Linked DNA regions of Homo sapiens: region 1 is linked to region 2. The links come from fine-mapping of genetic effects on plasma protein levels. A gene starts in region 2. The other region holds a variant in brackets. All regions are shown on one strand. Distances are from middle to middle. Region 1 holds the start of LOC124904038 (a long non-coding RNA gene). Region 2 holds the start of LPO (lactoperoxidase).

What was found. PIP is the posterior inclusion probability: the model's chance that the variant is causal. The UK Biobank Pharma Proteomics Project read protein levels with antibody pairs (Olink). The fine-mapping took linkage between variants from a reference panel, not from the people measured, so its PIPs are less certain.
Region 1: its variant is fine-mapped to the plasma level of the LPO protein (UK Biobank, PIP above 0.99). The variant lies in the coding sequence of LPO. If it changes the protein, the assay may bind it differently, which can mimic a change of level.

Annotation. Positions count from the first base shown.
Region 1 is chr17:58,246,764-58,254,763 of GRCh38, reverse strand. LPO (lactoperoxidase) reads right to left here. Exons shown (of 13, transcript NM_006151.3): 4 at 7,126-7,286; 5 at 5,587-5,704; 6 at 5,069-5,198; 7 at 4,143-4,349; 8 at 2,258-2,582. LOC124904038 (a long non-coding RNA gene) reads left to right here and starts at 5,680. Exons shown (of 3, transcript XR_007065862.1): 1 at 5,680-5,822. RefSeq lists enhancers at 5,215-5,284, 5,415-5,980. The variant G/A (reference allele first, on the strand shown) is at 4,346.
Region 2 is chr17:58,230,971-58,242,902 of GRCh38, reverse strand. LPO (lactoperoxidase) reads right to left here and starts at 4,319. Exons shown (of 13, transcript NM_006151.3): 1 at 4,164-4,319. LOC124904038 (a long non-coding RNA gene) reads left to right here. Exons shown (of 3, transcript XR_007065862.1): 3 at 1-1,225. LOC105371841 (a long non-coding RNA gene) reads right to left here. Exons shown (of 2, transcript XR_934884.4): 2 at 9,324-10,243.

The DNA of each region.
Region 1 (8,000 bases), 14 kb before region 2:
GACCCAGTAACCTGCACAAAGAAATGATGGTGCCCCACAGGACCGCGCCCCGCCCCCCCCGCCCCGTCAACAAGCCCTACTTCCCGTCAGGTGAATAGGGATGGGGAGGGGGTACTGAATCATAGGTTTGACTCTCAGTTCTATATACACACTTTTTAGCTGTGTGACCTTGGACAAGTTACTTAACACTTCTGAGCCTCGGTCTCCTTACCTATGAAAATGAGAATAAAGCCTATCACAGCACTGTGACAAAGGCTAGTGGTGACAAACTACACAGTAACATTTTGCTAATTATAACCCAACCGCCTTCTAGGAAGGGGAGCTTCGAATGAATGAGGAGCTTTTTACTTCACAGAGCAAATTTGAAGGTTTTAGGAATGCGGGTTTGAGGTGAGGAGCTTGGGTAAGGCTGAGTTCCTCTGGGTAATAAAGGGAGAATAATCTGGAGATGGGGGTCTGTAGTGGGAGGGAGAGAGGAGTAACGATGGGGGAACAGTTAAATGGCCAAAGACCAGGTGTCTCATAAGGGGATAAAGGACTTCTCCCTGTGCCCTCTAATCTTTAGGAGAGTCTATCTATCTATCTATCTATCTATCTATCTATCTATCTATATATCTATATATCTATATATCTATCATCATCTATCTATCTATCTGGACAGTCTTGCTCTGTTGCCCAGGCTGGAGTGCAATGGCATTATCTTGGCTAACTGAAGCCTCAACCTCGTGGGCTCAAGTGATCCTCCTGTTTCAGCCTCCAGAGTAGCTGGGACTACAGGCATGTGCCACCATGTGTTGCTAGTTTTTAAATTTTTTGTAGAGACAGGGGTCTTGCTATGTTGCCCAGGCTGTTCTCGAACTTGTGGCCTCAAGCAATCCTCCCACCTAAGCCTCCCAAAGTGTTGGGATTACAGGCATGAGCCACTGCACCAGGCCAGGAAATCTATTTAAAATTGTAAATTCTTGGTGTGAGTGCATATTTTTATGAAAAACAAGAAAGAACTCGGTTTTGTGTCTGGATTGCTGTGGGATATATGTGAACACAAAATCCAAAAGATCTATAAAGGTATCTTGGCCTAAGAGCTGGCCTTCTGCAATGTCAGGGTGGCCAGGGGGTTTGTCCAAAGAGAGAGGATGTTTGAGGGTGGGATGGCCTCTAGAAGCCGGAGACAGAGAGGACCAGGAGGGCACCTGGAATGAACAGAATTAGCAGGGCTTTGGTCGTGCACAGGCTGAATGGAATGGGGATTTTGTCCCCAGGTTATAAAAAGCTTTAAAAATATACATTCCTCTTCATCTAGAACTTCCTCTTCTGGGAAATTAGCTTAATAAATGTATTAAAAATGAGAACAAAGATTTATCAATGAAGATGTTCATTACCTAAACAACAGCAACAAAACACAGGAAAACTTGAAATAACTAAATTCCCCCAAGTAGGATTGAGAAAATAAATGATGGTAATATGTGTCATGAAATACCAGGCAGCCATTAAAAATCACGTCATAGAAGAACAGTTAATGGCATGGAGTAAATTAAGTGAAGACATCAGGTTTTGGAGCATTATTTATAGTAAGACCCGATTATGTAAAACAATGTAGAACTGTATCTGTGATAGAAAAAATACTGGAAAATAAGCATGAAAATGTTAACGATGATTATTGGTGGGTAGTGGGATTGTGTGAATTTTCTTTTTCTTTTCTTTTCTTTCTTTCTTTCTTTTTTTTTTTTTTTTTTTTTTTTTTGAGATGGAGTCTTGCTTTGTTGCCCAGGCTGGAGTGCAGTGGCGTGATCTCGGCTCACTGCAACCTCCGCCTCCTGGGTTCAGGTGATTCTTCTACCTCAGCCTCCAGAGTAGCTGGGACTACAGGGGTGTGCCACCACGCCCGGCTAATTTTTTGTGTTTTTAGAAGAGACGGGGTTTCACCATGTTAGCCAGGATGGTCTCGATCTCGTGACCTCATGATCTGCCTGCCTCGGCCTCCCAAAGTGCTGGGATTACAGGCGTGAGCCACCAAGCCTGGCACTTTCTTTTTATTTTCTTTGTTACTTTTCTGGACTTCCTGATTTTGTTTTACAGTGAACATATGTTCTGGAATTCTTTATTCATCTGGGCCCTTCTGCTAGTCCTGGACCACTGCTAGGGACAGCAATGGCTCAGTGTGCATTTTTCCAGAAAGATGACAAGAAGGGGGCAGTGGTAAAGCTTCCCTGGATAATCCCCTTGTCCTTGGGCCCTTCTGTTCCCAGGCTAGACTCACCTGCCAGGAAGCAGGGCACACGGGCAGTGGTGTTGATGAACTCACAGGGGCTTGGCTTCTTGCTGTCATAGGGCAGGTAGGGTAGTCCATGGTCTGAGACCTCCTGGTTGACAGCCATGAGGCCCAGGGGGCTGCTGAGGTTGCGGAGGCGGCTGGCCAGGCTTGGCTCGGAGCTGTACACAAAGCTGGCATCCAGGAAGGAGGTCAGAGCGTTGATCTGCTCTCGGGCCAGGGACTTGTAGGGTGGAGTGGGGCAGACGAACCCAGCTCGGAAGAAAGGCATGCATTTCCCTTGAGTCCCCGCCTTGGGGTCATTGGGTGGGAACTGCAGAGAGAGTGGGCATAAGTGACTGGGCAGGGGTGGAACAGCTGGGTCCTGGCAACCTCTCCCCAGGGCAAGTCTGGATGCAAAGATGCTGATGGCACCCTCCTAGGACCCTGGTACCAGACACTGACCCCAGACACTTCTTGCTGACATTACACACCCTGGGCTCATAATATCCTGAAGTTCATTACATCCTGTTGTGTGAAAGAACTGAGGGTAATCATTCAGTCCTCACAGTGAGGGCTCCAAATTTCTGGTGAGGAGGGAGTATTGAGCTCCCTGGACAGGAAAGCAGGACACGAGGTGGGAACAGGTTTGTTAATAATTACTACTAACAACAGCTGCCATGTATTTATTTTGGACTTACCATGTGCCAGGAATTATGCATACTTTAACTCATCTCAGTCCTCAAAAAAACCCTGTAAGGTGGACAATTCAGTTCCATTTTATAGATGAGAAAACTGGGGCTCAGAAAAGTTAAGTAAGTTGCCTAAGAACTTATACACTGGAAGGGAAAGATGTAGGATTCAGATCATTGGCTTCATTCCACAGTTTATGCTCTTTATACCACAGCACATAGCCTCGATTTATTCTTTGAGTGAAGAAATGACTCTCCAACTGTAATACCCATGAATAATAAGAAAAGATGCATTGCTGCAAGCTCCTCTCCCTTCCGGATGGAAATCCCTACAAATCCCTGCTGCTCACTCGGATTCATCCAGGTTTCAAGTCCTTCTGAGTGGAGTTGAAGTCATCCTCCACGATGATGTACAGCAGTATAAACTTTATCATGTATAAAATGAATCTCTGTTGATCTTGGTAAAAATGTAGAATCTATTTCCTAACATCTTGGGTGAGACTTGAGATTTTGCATTTTTTTTTTCTTTTTCTTTTTTCTTTTTTGAGTTGGAATCTTGCTCTGTTGCCCAGGCTGGAGTGCAGTGGCGTGATCTCGGCTCACTGCAACCTCCGCCTCCCAGGTTCAAGCGGTTCTCCTGCCTCAACCTCCTGAGTAGCTGGGACCACATGCATGTGCCACCTCGCCAGGCTAATTTTTGTATTTTTAGTAGAGACGGGGTTTCACCATGTTGGCCAGGCTGGTCTCAAACTCTTGACCTCAGGTGATCTGTCCACCTCAGCCTCCCCAAGTGCTGGGATTATAGGCATGAGCCGCCTCGCCCAACTGAGATTTTACATTTCTAATAAGCAGGTTTTACCAATGCTGCTGGGTCGGGAATGTAGACAACCTTCTCCAGTGTTCCCATTCTGCTATCAGTAGTTTACTTGTCCAATTCCCACACTGGCCCTTTGTTCTTGAGAGCAGGAGCGGTGTCCTGTTCACTTTGGAATCCTCAGCGCTTAGTGCACTGCCTGGTATGGGGTGGTCAATGTCTATTTACTGAATAAACGGATGAGTGAACGAATGGACACGTGAGGCATGGGAAACTACCAAATCAGTATCCCAGATCTATCCAGAGATCCTAGCTGATGAGCTGGGAATGTCTGCTACATCAGGGTGGGCAAGGGGCTAGTCAGAGATGCCTAGCTGCAGGGCCGTACCATGATGGGGAAGCAGTTGTCTCCCTGGATACAGTACTCATCACACTGGGCTTTGGAGTACTCGCTACTCCCCAGCTCGGTGTCAGGGGCAAAGTCCAGGTCATGATCCACAATCTGACCCCACTGCATGAAGAGCAGGGACCTGTTTTGGTCCAGAACACCCTCCTCATTCAGATAGCCAACAATCTTGTTAGATACCTCCC[G/A]GGCCTACAGATGGAGAGAGAAGGGGAGGGCAGATTAGAGGAAAAAGTGCTTTGAGGATTCAGATGCAACTACAGCTTATTAACTACCTACCATGTTACAAGTGCACTTAATCCCTACAAGGAGTTTGTGAGGTGGGTGGCATTAGCCTATTCTGTAGAGGGGGAGATTGAATCCTGGACAGGTGAAGTCAGTTCTCCAAGGTCCTGCCGCTACAAAGGGACAGGGATGGGATTGAACCCAGATCCGTATGACTTGATGATTTGCCAAGCCGGTGCCCTTTCCACTAAGAGAGGGAAAACAAAGACAGGCTGCCTCTGAAATGCGAGCTACGGAGGTGCCAGGTGTCCAGGAATAGGAGAGGGGCTCTGGGTAGGGGCTGCCAGCTCGATAAGGCCAACAAATAGGACCTCCAGGCAAACAACAGCTGATGCACTCCAGGGGCGGGGGCTGGGGTAAGTGCGAGCGGGATGGGGCAGGGAGGCCATCTGCCCGGGAGACCCCAGGGTATCTGGCCTGCGGCGGCCAGAACGTGACCGCCACGTGGCCGGGCTCCGGGCTCCGAGCTCTGCTGCCCTCTAGCGGAAGGTGGGGGTCTGTGCAGATCTCCATCGCGCACCCCTGCTGCCCCCACCGATCCCTCCTCCTCCTTTCACTGCGTGTTTGGGTAGTGCATCCCGTCCCCTCTGGCTCCCATCCTTCACCCCGGCCCGGCCTGCCCTCACCAGCGGGAGAGGGAAGCCGTTGCGCGTCTTCCCCGGCGTCCAGCCGAAGGGCAGGGAGAGCCCGTCCTCGTACTCCGCGGGCAGCCAGCGCGCCAGAGCCCTGTTGGCGGCGCCCAGCGCAGGCTTCCTCCTGAAACCAGCACGATCCTCGCTGAGCTTCGGCAGGCCGGCTCCGGGGCTCCAAAGCCCAGGACCCCATGGGGGAAGGAGCCTCTGCTCGAGGCGGAGGGGACGCAGAGAAGGGGGCCTCTCAAATTTGGGGTCTCTGAACTGCGCCCACCCCCTGAAGGCGCGGGGCTCCCCCGCCCCGGGGAAAGGTGCCGCTTCCAGAGACACACAGTGGGCTGGAGGGAGAGGGCTGGAGACGCGCGATCTTGAGAAGGTGGGGAAGGTGGGAACGCCAGCCCAGGTGGGCAAGGCAGTGGCAGATCTGCCTAGAGTGCCCAAGGGACAAAGGCCTTGGCAGGGCGGGGCGGAGTGGCTGGAATGGTCGGCCCCCACACCCCAAGCCCCGCCACCTGTTATTGCAGTCTCCCGTAATGGTGCGGTAAGGGCTGCACGGGTCGCATCTCACCACGGGAGCAGGAGCACCACAGCCCACCTCCAGAGACAGTGAAGTCAAGTCCAGGCTGGGATCTGAAACAGAAGGGACCCCAAAGGGACTGAGTTCTTTCTCCATTCACAGGCACCCGTGGGAGGCAGGAAATGGAGACCAGAGGTGAACCTGCATGTTTTGGAATGCATTCCATTCTAAGTAAGCGTTTCTCAAGTGGTTTCTCAATTAATCTGACAGCACATTAAGGTAATACATTTTATTCCCATTTTACAGGGAAGAAAATGAGAACACAATGTTCAAGAGACTTGCCCAAGGCCACACAGAGTAACTGGGAATGTCCCCAGAATTGCTAGTAATTCCTGGTATACCAGGTCCAGATTCATTTGAATTGACAGATCTTTCTTTTAGAATGGAAATACCCCGGGAGGTTAAGCATATGTTAGTATGAGTTAGTGTGATAAGACTGCTTTCTTCTAAAGCTTCGTTCACATCTGAAGTACCAAGCAAGCAGGGACATAGCTAGGATAGAGGTTGGGAAGGGACAGGTAATTTTTCAGTGAGGGGCAAGGGTTGTGGGAGGAGTGACAGAGTAGGGGGGCTTTAGGCATCAGAGTGTTCAGTGTGGGCACAGAGTGGAGAGAGATGCCCACTTCTGAACGCATACCCTCATCCACCCTGGCGTCTGCAAGGGCAGGGAGGTGAGGGAATCTGGCTCATGGGGGCTTCTTCCGGGGGGCCATCTCTGAAAGGTGGCAGGATTTCAGCTCTCCGAACCTTTTGTATTTCAGAGGTCAAAGTGCTTCCTACTTCTTACCTTGTCCCAGTTTCCTTCTTTTGGAGCTTTGGAATTTGCCCAACTCCTGGGCCAGGTATCCCCCCTCACTTGATGTTTTCCCAGGGAGAACCTGCAGCCTTTTCCTCCTGTCAGGACCAAACCCCTTCCTCATGACCCTCTGTGGGCTGTGGCATTTGGTTGGGGGTGAGAGTGGAGGGGATGGAGGAGGCCATGACCAAGCCATCAGTTAAGTTCACTTACTGATAGCTCCATCTTACCCAGAACACGATGGAAATCTTAGCTCCTGTGACATTATCCCAAGTAAATCCCCCTGACACATGTGGCTTAAATGTCTCTTCTACTAGAGGAAGTGGTGACACTGTGGCTTAGGACAAGGAACCCATGTTTATTGACTTTAGCACTTCCTTTGGGCAGAGGCCTTACAGACGGTGTTATACAAAGAGCACCAATGTCCCCTCACTTGGAGTCGGCCATGTGAGCTTGCTAGGTCTCAGTTTCTTCCTCTGCAAAAACAGCATTGCCCTAGCTGTCCTCTAAGACCTTCCTTGCTCTGCCAGTCTCGTCTACGGGTCTAAGAAGGGAGAGACAGGAGTGTTCCTCTGAGTAGATAGCTCTCAACAGGAAGTGCAGCTTTGGGTGGCCTCTGCTTTCTCCTGTGGGGAGATGACCCCTTCCTGCCACAGAGGGCTGGTGGGTTTTCTGTACCTGTGACATTGGTCAAGGATGCCTTCTGCCTCAGTCTCTTTAAAGACTCCTCCCACACCTGTCCATTGCGGATGGCTGTGCGCGTCCGGCCTTTGGCATGCTTGAGGTATTCTGAGAGCTGTCGGCTGGTGGGAGTCTCAGAGCTCATGGCGGTCTTCAGCCTACAGTGGAGGGAGATGGGGATCATGGCCTGGACCCTGTAGGAAGGGGGCTGGGGGCCGCTGGAGGGGTGGGAGGGGTGTGTGTACAACATGGCCTCATAACCCAGCTGCTGCACTGTCCAATACAGTAGCCACTAACCACATGTGGCTATTTAAATTGAAACTCATTAAAATTAAAATTAAAAATTCAGTTCCTCAGCAGCACTAGGCACACCTCAAGTGCTCAATAGCCAGGTGTGGTTAGTGATGACTGTGTTGGACAGTGCAGATATAGAACATTTCATCATCCTAGAAAGTTATCTTGGACACTGCTAGCCTAAAGTGGGCTTAGAGCTGGACAGACACAGGGGTGGATCTGGGTTCCACCAGGATTGGTTTAATTATATGACCTCTGAGTGACTTCCCCTCATTTATGAACTGGAAATCACAATTTCCTCCCATCAGAGACTTCTGTATGGACTTTGGGATAGACTGACTGGGATTGGCTCCTGACTGCCACTTTCTAGTTGTGTGCCCTTGAGGCAAATTACTTAAGCTCTTTGTACTCAGTTTCCTTATTGGTATAATGAAAATAATGATGGTAATCTTAGGTTGAACCATGTTGTTTCATCATTTTTGACCTTGAAAACAGCTGTTTTCTACAGTTCGATTCAGTACTTCCTAGGATTTTGGGGAGGAATGAATGTAGGGCCCCCAGAGCTGCATCTGCACAGA
Region 2 (11,932 bases):
GAAAGCCAAAGGAGCACCAGACACCCTAATATTGGAACAGGAAAGGAGAAACCACATTAACGAATGAAGCATCTACCATACACACAGGCCTGTGCTAGGTACTGGGAGAGATGGAAAGAGGAGAAGACATGGTGGAAGGGAAAGAACTCAGGCTTCAGGATCTAAGGCCCTGAGTTATCATTCTGCATTTGCTCCAATAGCTCTGTGACCTTGGGCAGGTTACTTAACATCTCTGGGGTCCTGGCTTGCTATGGGAGGAGGTGGGACCAAGTGATCCAGAATGTTCAATTCTGCCCTGACAGCCTGTGGTCGGGAGATGCTGTACCTGTCTTGTCACAGGTGTGAGAAACGCTGTTACCAAGGCTGGAGCCTGCCTTTGAGTTCCCCTCCCTCCTTCCCTGCAGGATGCATTGCTCCCTGCAAGCCAGTTTCCTCTGGCCCAGCCCCAGGAGAGAATGCCTGAGAGGCAGACACTCAGCGCCTCCCTTCGGAAACCTGGCAGGGGCTTCCCCTTCCCTCAAAGTGCCAACTTGATGGCAATACTGAAAGAAAGTTATGACAAAGCTCAGAGCTCCCCTGAGCCCACAGCTGTGCCCCAGGCTGCCTGGAAAGATTCCAGCTCATGGATTAACCTCTTTGCCATGAGCTTTAACTCTGAATGCAAATCTTTAGACTGAAATTTGTGAAGCTTTGTTTTCTGATGAGGGTCTTCACTGGGCTTAGTGGAGCAGACCCCATACATCTTCTGAGGAGATTCTGGCTCCAGCCCGGGGTGGCAGCCACAGCGTGCAGATGGAATGATTGTGTGTTTAGACCATGGTCCTGAGAGGCTCCTCAGCTTTCACAAGGGCGCCTGTGCTCTCCCTGCAGCACGGCGTTCACTGGTGGAATCCAGAAGCACACTAAGGAGAGCAGCCTCAGGTTGCCCCCCAGCCATGTCTCCCCAGGGCTCAGCTCCCAGAGAGAAATCATAGTTCTGGAGCTTTGCCTGACAGACTTCCCCGTATGTCTTGCAGACCCTCTCCAAATCATCTCCCTTTGGAATAGGCCAGACCAGGAGACCTCTGTATATGGATCAGGTCATTTCAGCCTCCTTCACCCCTGCCTGCCTCCAATTTTTCCCTCTGCCCTTTCGTGGTCCCCCTAATAATTTGTATCTTGTTGTACTTTTTGCCAGCTAACTCTAGAGAAGGGGCAAGGCATGAATAAATACCTCTCTGGCCAAGATTCTCTCTGTTACTTCCCCCCACCCCAAGATGAGTTCTCAAACAGCTTGACCTCTCAGTGGGCTCTTGTCCTTATAGTTGTATGGCCCCAAGGAGGAAGAGATTCTGTGACCTCCTATCCCTCTGTCACCATATTTTGCAACTTCAGGGGACCCATTGCAGGGTTCATTGAGTTAGCAGAAATCTGCCCTTCAGACAAACAGAGATGATGGTTTTGGAGGAAAAGGTATCATTGACTTTAAAAAACAAACTATGGTAAAAAACATGGCCAGGTGTGGTGGCTCATGCCTGTAATCCCAGAATTTTGGGAGGCTGAGGCAGGCGGATCACTTGAGGTCAGGGGTTGGAGACCAGCCTGGTCAATGTGGTAAAACCCTGTCTCTACTAGAAATACAAGAATTAGCCAGGCGTGGTGGCAGACACCGGCAATTCCAGCTACTCGGGAGACTGAGGCAGGAGAATCCCTTGAACCTGGGAGGTGGAGGCTGCAGTGAGCCAAGATTGCGCCACTGCACTCCAGCCTGGCTCAAAAAAAAAAAAAAAAAAAAAAAGAAAAAAGAAAAGAAAAGAACAACAACAACAAAAATCCACATAGCATAAAATTTAGCATCCTAGTCATTTAAACTCTACAGTACTGTAATGTTAGGTATATTCACATGTTGCACAATGGATCTCTAGAACATTTTCATCCTGTAAAAACTGAAACCCTATACCCATTGAACACCAACTCCCTATTTCCCCTTCCCCCTAGCTCCTGGCAACCACCATATCACTGATTTTTTTAAAGAGGGCTGTGGGCACAAACATTCATTATATTGTTCTTTGAATGACTAATGCGTTTCCTAATAAATGACAAACACAAAGTAAAAAATTAGTCCATTTTTTAAAAAGACATCATCTGAGACAGCCTGAGGAAGACAAAATCATAGAAGAAGACATGAAAGTTGAGAAATTTGAACAGGAAACAATACTTAAATATTCAATTCTCCTCTCCTCTTCTTTAGGACCCCCTTCATGCTCTCCTCACTGGAAAGTGGAGGAGGGGGACTTCAAGGCCAGAGAGAAATTATTTTCCCATGTCTTGGGCAATGTTCCTGGTGGGTGTGAGGGACGGGTATGAACAAAAATCAGAGCCAGGTGAATACAAGGTCATGTCACTGAAAAGGGGGTGTGCAGAAAGATTCTAGAGGGACACTGTCTTCAGCCAGAACCACACAGGGCAAGAGGGCCTGGGGCTTTAGAGTGTAAGAGGCCAACAAGAGGCTCCTGTGATGTGTAGATATTTATCCATATTCTTATCAACATGCTGAGTGCAGAAACCATTTCCCAAGCCCTTTGATTTGCAGCAAAGCCTGGAGCCTTCCCTGGGACATGAAGCACTATCTGGAGACAGAGCCACAGCCTTTGCCCCTCAAATGCCAGGCTGGTCCACAATCCCATGCCTCTACTCATGCTCTTCCCTATACAATACCCTCTCTGGCTAATAAACTCCTATTCATTCTTCAAAACCCAGACCAAATTTCACCTCCTCTGTGAAGTTTACCAGTTTTCTCCAGGAAAAGTTAGATCGTTCCTTTTTCTGTCCTCCCACAGTATTTCATCCATATCTCATATTACTGTCTTCACATCTGTTTCCCCTATCAGACCATGAACTCCTCAAGGGCTCCATCTTATTTATTTGTTTTCCCAGGACCTAAGCATGTCAATACATAATAGGTGTTGGGTGCATGCTGAATGAATAAAACTCCTAGAGCAGAGAAATTCAGCATCTGGAGGTTGCAGAGGGAGAGGGCAGAGATAGTCCCTCGGCAAGCCTCTCACACTGTAATGTGCCTACTATCACCTAGGGATTTTGGTAAATGCAGATTCTGACTCAGAAGGTCATAGAAGGGGCCTGAAAGTCTGCATTTCCAGTAAGCTCCAGGTGATGATGATGTTGCTGGTCTGCAGACCACACTCTGAGTACCAAGGCCTTCCAGACTTTGGTTCTCAATGTCGCTGAGCAGTCACCAAGGAGATAGGGGGAAGGCCTGAGAAGGGATGAAGTCAGTGAGATTCTCTTCCATGATTGTAAAGAGCCCTGTGGAGGGTGGTGGAGTGAGCCAATAGGAAAGCCATAATTCTTGCCCCATCACCTGCAGGAACACTCTCTTGATCTTTTGAGTGACTCCAAGATCAGGATGAGAATGAAGAGATAGCTCTTATCAAGCCCTCTAGAGCGGAAATAATCTACTTCAACTGAAAGATTTGAGGCACACAATTGCATAAAAAACAAATATAATTTAACCACCCCATTCCCCCAAAATGAAGCCTGCCTACTACCGCTGCATACAGGTCACACACCTGCTTGAGAGCCAGGTGTCCACAGGGCACTTAAGACAGCTAGGACTAGACATTGAGGGCAAACTAGATGGTCGGATCTGCTGCAGATGGCAGGCATGAGATGCTGGAAATGAGATGAAGACCTGACAGCTCCGGCTTAGGGAACCCCTTAAAACACTGCAAAATCTCCACTATAGTGGAGAGGCCAGATTTCATCACACTGTCTCAAGAACAGCACAGGGAGCACCATTCTGTCACTGTTTTCCCCCAAATTCCTGTGTGACTCTGGACACATTAAATTGCTTAAGTCTCAGTTCCTAAACAAGGTGGATAAGAGAGGTCTATGGTACCTTCCAGCCCTAAGAGTTTATGATTCTCTGACATAGTTTTCAGACACAGAAAAGCCTTTTTCCCCCACAGTGGTGGGGGGAGGCTTAATTACATTCTCTCTTATACCAAACAAGAGGAGTGTGCCATGGGGTGGCTAAAGCTGGCACCAGAAAGTGCCTGATAGAGACAAGTCTAAATCCAGTGTTAAGCTTTCTGAGAAGACGTTAGGAAATTTCATCATCAACTTTGCAGAAACCAGGAAAGATGAAAGTTGACGAGTCTTACCTGCCCAGTGCCTTGTCTTTTCACGGCAGCCAGGGAGTTGCTCTGCTTGGAGGAGCTGGTCTTTTATACCTTCCAGCAAGAATTCACTTCTGGGAAAGGCCCAGAAGGAAAGATTTTGATGTGGCTTGGAGGAGACGCTGAGGCTTAGCAGGAAAGACTGTGTGACTCCGGGCAGATACACCAGGAAACTGCAGAATGGCAGGGATTGGTTGATGCAATAGCACTGACTGTGGGTGAAGCAACTCCTCTTTCCATTTTCTAGCTTAAATGCATGATCCTGATCTAGTTCCGGAAGGCAAAAACTGCATGCCCTGAGCACATTTGTCCCTTTTAAGCTCCTAATGGGATCCGAATAGCTCTTAGAATTATGAACAATTATTAGGTTGGTGCAAAAGTATTGCAAAAACCGCAATTACTTTTGCACCTAGCTAAATGGTTCTCCTCCCCATTCATATATTCACTGCCCTTTGATCCCTCCCTTACATTCCACCCAATTTACTGTGGAATCCAGTGGATTCATCTTTTGGATTTAAAGTGATCAATAAACATTAATTTTTTTGGTCAAAATTTCAAAATACTTTTGGCCACCAAAGGGTGAGAAGAGCCCTAAGCTTTCATAGTGGGTTGCAGTCCCTGCCTCTGCCATTGTATGGCTCTAGGCAAGTCACTTCACCTTCTGGTGTCTCAAATTTTCTAGTATTGAAATCAATGGTTGGTTTTGGTGATTATTATGATTCTATGACTTCATGCCTTCTATAGGGTGACCCATTTAAAAAACTCCAGAATCTGGGAGGCCAAGGTGGGTGGATCACTTGAGGTCAGGAGTTGGAGACCAGCCCAGCCAACATGGTGAAACCCTGTCTCTACTAAAAACACAAAAATTAACCAGGCATGGAGGTGCATACCTGTAATCCCAGCTACCTGGGAGGCTGAGGTGGGAGAATCACTTGAACCTGGGAGGCAGGGGTTGCAGTGAGCCAAGATCATGCCATTGCACTCCAGCCTGGGTGACAGGACGAGACTCTGTCTCAACAAAACGAAACAAAACAAAACCACCACTATCGTATAAATTATTGACCTAAAGCTCAAGCATAATGTTACATACCTTTCCTACCTCAATGACTTTGGAAATTCAAGTTCATTAGATTCATACAAGAAGGAAAAAGGAAGATTCCGAGAAAACAAAATTTCATGAAAGTATATTTTACAGACAGACAATTTAAAACATAATAAGCCTCTTTATGAAATTATACTTTGAGTTGAAAATACTCTGGGAGCAACTGTCAGAAATTTATCAACCCCAAAACAGACTTCTTGGTTCGCCTTCAAAAAAGTGATATTTCCTTTCTCTAGATGGTGGAATATATCTAAAAACTACTTCTCTCGTGATGAATCCAGGCAAATAAGCTGGGCATCTCGGAAGAAGGCAGCTGTCCAGGAGAGGTGAATGAGACATCAGGCTCTTCTTGTTTTCTTTGAAACACACTTCAGCTCCTTAGCCAAGCATTGTTTTTCTGTGTCTGACCATTCCCTGAACTTTGGCACATGTTTCTCAAGGTTCTTGCCTCTGAGTTTTATGCTTAATATGTTCAGGAAGCTGTGTTGTTAGGCAGATCTTGACCTAGTTGGTTCTGAATAATCTGAAGATGGAACTTCCTTTTAGAAGACCCTATGGGATAACATTGCTTCCTATGTACAAAATATAGTGACTTATTGGTCAGGGTAACAGCAAAATACAGGTCTGATTATTCCCGGGTTTTATCATGTTATGACATGATATGATATGTCCTAGCTTTGGTCTTTCTGTAATGGGTCAAATAGGATGGGGCAGTGTCAGCTCCAGCCCAGTAAGGACCTTCCTTGATATTGGCCGTGAAGCACACCTGGAGGCAGTCAATCTGACAGTGACATGCCTATTGTTCTATAGCTAATTTTTATTTGAGAGCTTTGCTGACATGTGATGACATGTTTTCATGGGTTTATCTCAGTCTAGTCAAATCTGTAGCACAGGTAGATGTCTTCCCATGTGGGAATGGCAAATTGGCCTGAGAAATGGAGAGTGGAAGGCAGAAAGTTCAGGAGAAAGCTAAAAAGGCCAATAGCTTCTCATATGTCAGTGCAGAGTCCAAGATATTTTAGCAAAAGCAGCAGCAGCAGGGAGTACCCAATGAAGATAAGGTCTATCGCTGGCACATGACAGTACACACACCCACACACACACACAAACATGCACACATACTTCCCAGGAACACACAGTTTATAAATGAGACTGATTTTGGACATAGCTGGCTCACCTCTGTCGCCTTCTAGAATTAGAATGCTGCATGCTGCATACACAACCTTTGGTTGATCCAAAGGATACTCATGGTTGGTAACACAGTGACCATTCTATTTGTGTAAGGTGATTGTAGCTCTCACACTGGGCCCATGTCAGGTGCTCTCTCCCATGGGCGCATAGCTAGTCCCTTCCTTAGCTGTCTGTTTTCACCTTTGTCTGCTGGCTTGGCTGTCATTCATAGCTGGGCAGGGTTGTTTTTTTTCTTTTCTTTCCTGGCTAAAATGCATTTCCTTTTGTTGGTTTCCTAGAACACCAAACAAACAGACTTCTTGTCCCAAGGGTGGCTCTATATGCCCATGTTTACCCCTTTTGGGATTCATCCACTAGTTCTACCCCAGAGAAGGGAGGAACCCAGGCACTCTGGCTTAAGCTGTCCCTGGCCTCTGGAGGGGTGTGCAGATGGCAGAGCTTCTCTGAATGGTGTCCCAGGGCGGCATGAGCTGTTGGAAGGGATGGGGACATTGCCAGGCAGCCCCCTTTGGAGAGAGAGGAGGGATTTATAGATGAGAAAAAGAAATATTTGGGATGGGTTGTATGTCTCTCTAGCAGACAGGAGGAGGCTCTGTTATCTTCTCCTAGCAACTTTTTTTTTTTTCTGAGACAAGGTCTCACTCTGCCTCCCAGGCTAGAGTGCAGTGGTGCAACCACCAGTCAGTGCAAGGGCTCACGCCATCCTCCCACCTCAGCCTCCCAAGTAGCTGGGACTACAGGTATGCACCACCATTCCCTACTAGTTTTTAATTTTTTGTAGAGACAGGGTTTCCCTATGTTACCCAGACTAGTCTCGAACTCCTGGGCTCAAGTGATCCTCCTGCCTTGGCTTCCCAAAGTGCTAGGATTACAGGCATGAGCCACTGAGCCCGGCCTCCTAGTATTTTTTAGTGGGAGAATTGATCTGATGCTTGGTAGCTTCTGAGATTGGCATAACACAAGGGTTCCAACTGGCAAACCTATGATCAATGAATTTTTCCACTTAGCCACAGCATGCTGAGACTGAAGGGCTTCCCTGGGAACCGACCTGGTGGGTGGGCAGAATACTGTCTCTTCCTTCTCTTCATTAATGGCAAATCTTTTTTTTTTTTTTTTTCAGTTAATGCCATTCAACCATTTCCCCTCAGTGTTGTCTTTCCTTTCCTCCCTCTTTCCCTGTTCCTCTTAAATATTCACTGAGCACCTAATAGTATGTGCTTCTGGTTTTTTCTTACTCCTAATCCTCTCTCTTCCTAATTAGTTGACAAATTATGAATTTTAATAAGTTTGCTTAAGCAAAAAAGCTGTCAGATCTGTTCCCTGCCTTGGCAGGGTAATGTAGGCATAGGGCTGGGGAAGGGGATAGACCTCAATGGAGCAAGACAGTCTGAATAAATCCTGAGTTGCTCAGGGTAGAGATGGGGCAATAAACCAATTCCCACTTAAGCCACAAATAAAGAAACACAGGATTTTAAACAAAAAACAATCTTGAATTGCTATTGTTATTCTGTGAGCAGTCTGAGGATATGCTTTGTGATAAGTCCATAAAGAAAATATCATGCGAATAAAATGCCCTGTTTCTCAAGCAAGCAAGCATGTGTATGTGTGTGTGTATGTGTTTGCACACACACGTGCATACAGATGTGACAAAGCAACTAGCGAAAATGCAAGGAGCACTGGATTATTAAAACTCAGCAAGCCAGGCTCTAGTCCTAGCTTGCTAGTCAGCAGCATGTGACATTGGGAAAATTACTCTTTATTCAGAGGTCTCAGTTTCCTTCTCTGGAAAGAGAAATGGGTCCACTAAGTAATTGTGTTGGTTCCCTTGGGCTGTGATGTTTAGAATTCAATTGTGAATCAGTAGATCTTGTAGGTCCCAGTGCCAGTGAGCTTCTGCCTCATTGTACAGTCTTGTACACATTACATACCCTCAGGTTCTCTTTATATAAAAGGGGGATGAGAATCCTATGTTCTTACTCTTAGGACCAGCTGGGATGGGGTAGGGGGACAACTATCCCAAAGGCTGTTTCTCCTTAGTTCTGAGGGACAACCAGAAACAAAAGAACAGGAAGAATCTTGTTGAGAAAGAAGAAAAATTCTGCTGGGAATGTGATCATTCTCTGTCACTCAAGTTGGAAACCAGGGAGACACCCTGGGCATTTTTCTTTTTTCTTTCCCTCTTTTCTCTTCCTCCCCTTCCTCCCATCTTCTTGGTCACTGAATCCTGTCCATTTGTCCTTCATAAATCTCTTGCCTCTGTGGCTTCCTTGACTTCCCCACATTCTGGTTCTGCCCTGCCCTGAATTACCCCCCACTTTATTTATTTATTTATTTATTTATTTATTATTTTTTATTTATTTATTTTTTTTTTGAGACGGAGTTTCGCTCTGTCGCCCAGGCTGGAGTGCAGTGGAATTATCTTGGTTCACTGCAGCCTCTGCCTCCTGAGTTCAAGTGATTCTCCTGTCTCTGGAAGAGGCTGGACTTTTACCCCACTGCAGGGGTTAGAAGGGCCAGTTGAATTTGTAGGATTGTGGTGGAGGCTGGAATGGGGTGAAATGCTCAAATAGTCTGTCTGTGATGGAACCCCTTCCACTCTGGTGGAAACCTGGGGAGGGTGAAGTGGTTATTACCTCTCACTCTTCGCACAGTGCTAAGAAGGGGACAGAGGCTGGGGAGAGGAAGTGAAAGAATCTTCACTGTCCCACCCTCTTTTTCTTCTCTTAATGAATACAGGCTTTTCAAGAGGCTGTAAGCGTACACTGTAGAATGTCCTTCTACTCAGCGAGCAACATGGCCTCTGATATGCCTCTAACAAAAGATAATCATGACCAGGTACCCCTGAAGGAAACTGAGATTCTAAAATTTATTTGATATCTTACTTTTTTAAAGAGAAAAATTTTTATTTTAGAACAATTTTAGATTTACCATATTATTACAAAGATAATACAGAGTTCCTGCACACTCCACACCCAGTTTTCATTATGATTATCTTATTTTACAATGGTACATTTGTCACAGTTAATAAAGCAATATTGTTACATTATTATTAAGTAAAAGGTCAATATCTTACATTTTAACTTTCAAATTCATGCTTTTATGTCCCACTCAAGAAATTATCTGTTTGTTTTTATATAAAAATTTAAAATTTACTTCACAGCAACCTACAGTGGACACACCAAGAATGTGAGCCAAATGTAACCTGTGCTCTCTGTTTTCCGGGCCACTACGGTGTTCCCTGGGGGAGGCGCCCAGCTTGGGCCTACGAGAGTGAGTTCAGAGCGGAGTCGGAAGGAAATCTCATAGGGCCCTAATGACCCTGCTCGGTGGCTGTGTAACCTCAAGAGTTACTCAGTCTCTGAGCCTCGGCTTCCTCTTCTGGTGAGTGGGAGTAGGAGCAGCAGCCTGCCTCACAGGGTGCCATGAGGATAAGCTCGGCTCAGGCATGCAGACACGTAGAGCATGATTCACACGACGTCATTAGCATCAGGAGCATCCCTGAGACAGGAAGGTGAGCAGTGACTTCAGCACGAGCTGGTTCTTGAGAAGTCATGCTTTCACCCTCCCAGCCTCTGAATCGCCACTTCTAATCCTGAGGAGGGTCAGAAGCTGAAACTGAAAAAGGAAATGGCTTCAACCCCACGTCCTCATAGCTGGGTTGCACGCCACAGACAGAGGAGACAGAAAGGGAAAGTTTCTTTTTTTGGCTTCTGCTGCTGGGCATTCTCTCTGTCCTGGTGACTGTGTGGCTCTCCAATGAGCTGCTTGCTATCTGATGGGAAGAAAAAAGGAGATGATGGGGGCCATGGCACCACCCTGTCCCCAAGGAGCCAACTCTAGTTTTGCCCTCTTTTGGTCACATGGATGTGAAAGAGTCCATCTTCAGCCTGAGGACAACAGCTGGCCCAGGCAGGGTTTCTGCTCTTGAACTCGGCAACCTAGGCTAGTTGCTCCCACCTCTCTGAAGTCCCTGTGGACCTGGATACTGCATAGCTGATGATGTCCGTCTGCTGAAATAAAGCCTAGCAGAATTTCCTAGCCTGACAGCTGAAAACCGGCCTGCATTGCTTATAGTAACTCATGTTTTCTCTTTTCCCTTCTTGCTACAGATTTCAGGAGGCCCATTTTGACTTCAGTACCTGGCCCCCCATGAGGTGATGGCCCCACTGTTAGCTTTCCATGTCTAAACTCTGAAATTTTGCCCTGAATTTCGATCCAGTGCCCGAGGCACTGCCACTGCTGGCAATTTAATCATGGTCCTTACTGGATTTCACATCCTACAAATTCAACTGGCCCTTCTAACCCCTGCAGTGGGGTAAAAGTCCAGCCTCTCCCTCCAGCCCCAAGTTCTAAAACGTGGTGCTGGCCCACCTTCATGAACCCTCCCATTTGTGGCCATGTCAAAAGAGAAAATGATGAATGGGTAAGAAAAACAGAAATTGATCAAATCTGCCTGAGATTCTGCCCTCCTAGAACTTATCAAATCTGTAGCAATAAAACTTTACAGCCTCAGATTAGGGATCTGCAATTCCCTGCTCACAGCTGCAATGAGAGCAAGAGACCATGACCTAACAGACTCAATTGGGAAGATTCCCGTTTGTGGGATGTTTTCGATGTGTCACACAACCCTAGATTTCCTTGCTATTTTTATCTTTTGAAACATTCTCCAAGAAACCTAATGTGGAAGTTCCCTCTTTTAACATAATTATGTTGTTTCACTACAAGTTGCTGGGGTTCAAGAAATCATTAATTGGGCTACTTTAAGAGCATAATGTAATTCCAATCTGCAAAAATATAGGAAATATGACATTCTCTAGAAATGGATTTAAGCATAGATCTAGGACTCATAAATAACAAGGCAGTGTTTTGACCCTGGTGATATTTGCCAAGTAAGTATAGCAAGGGGATTTTAGTCAGCCTGGCTTTGCCTCATCATGATTTATATTTGTCTGATTCTTTTAAAAAGTAAGCTTAGAGTTTGAACAACATTTCAGAAGCCTCTGGTTCAGTGATTCCCAAAGGTTGCATCTGAATCAGTGGAAAGCTTGGGAAAAATACAGGCATCCAGACTCTGCTCCTGGTCTACAGAATTCCAGCTCTGGCATTGGAGTTGGAGAACCTCTATTTCTAATAAATCTCCTGGGTGAGTCTGACATACGGGTAGATTTGGAAACTACTAATCTAGCTGAACTTTCTACCCTCTGTAGGATTCCCCACTACATCCTTGCTCCTCAAGGTATGATCCAAAGTCTTATAGCATTGGAATCTTCTGGGAGCTACTCAGAAATACAGAATCTCAGGCCCCACCCAGATGTACCAAATCAGAATCTGCATTTTCACAAAATCCCCAGGTCATATTTATTTACATTAAAGCTGACAGATGGTCATCAAGTCACTGCTTGAACACTTCCGGGGTTGGGGAGCTCAGTATTTACATGGCAACCTGCTTCATTGCTGGGAG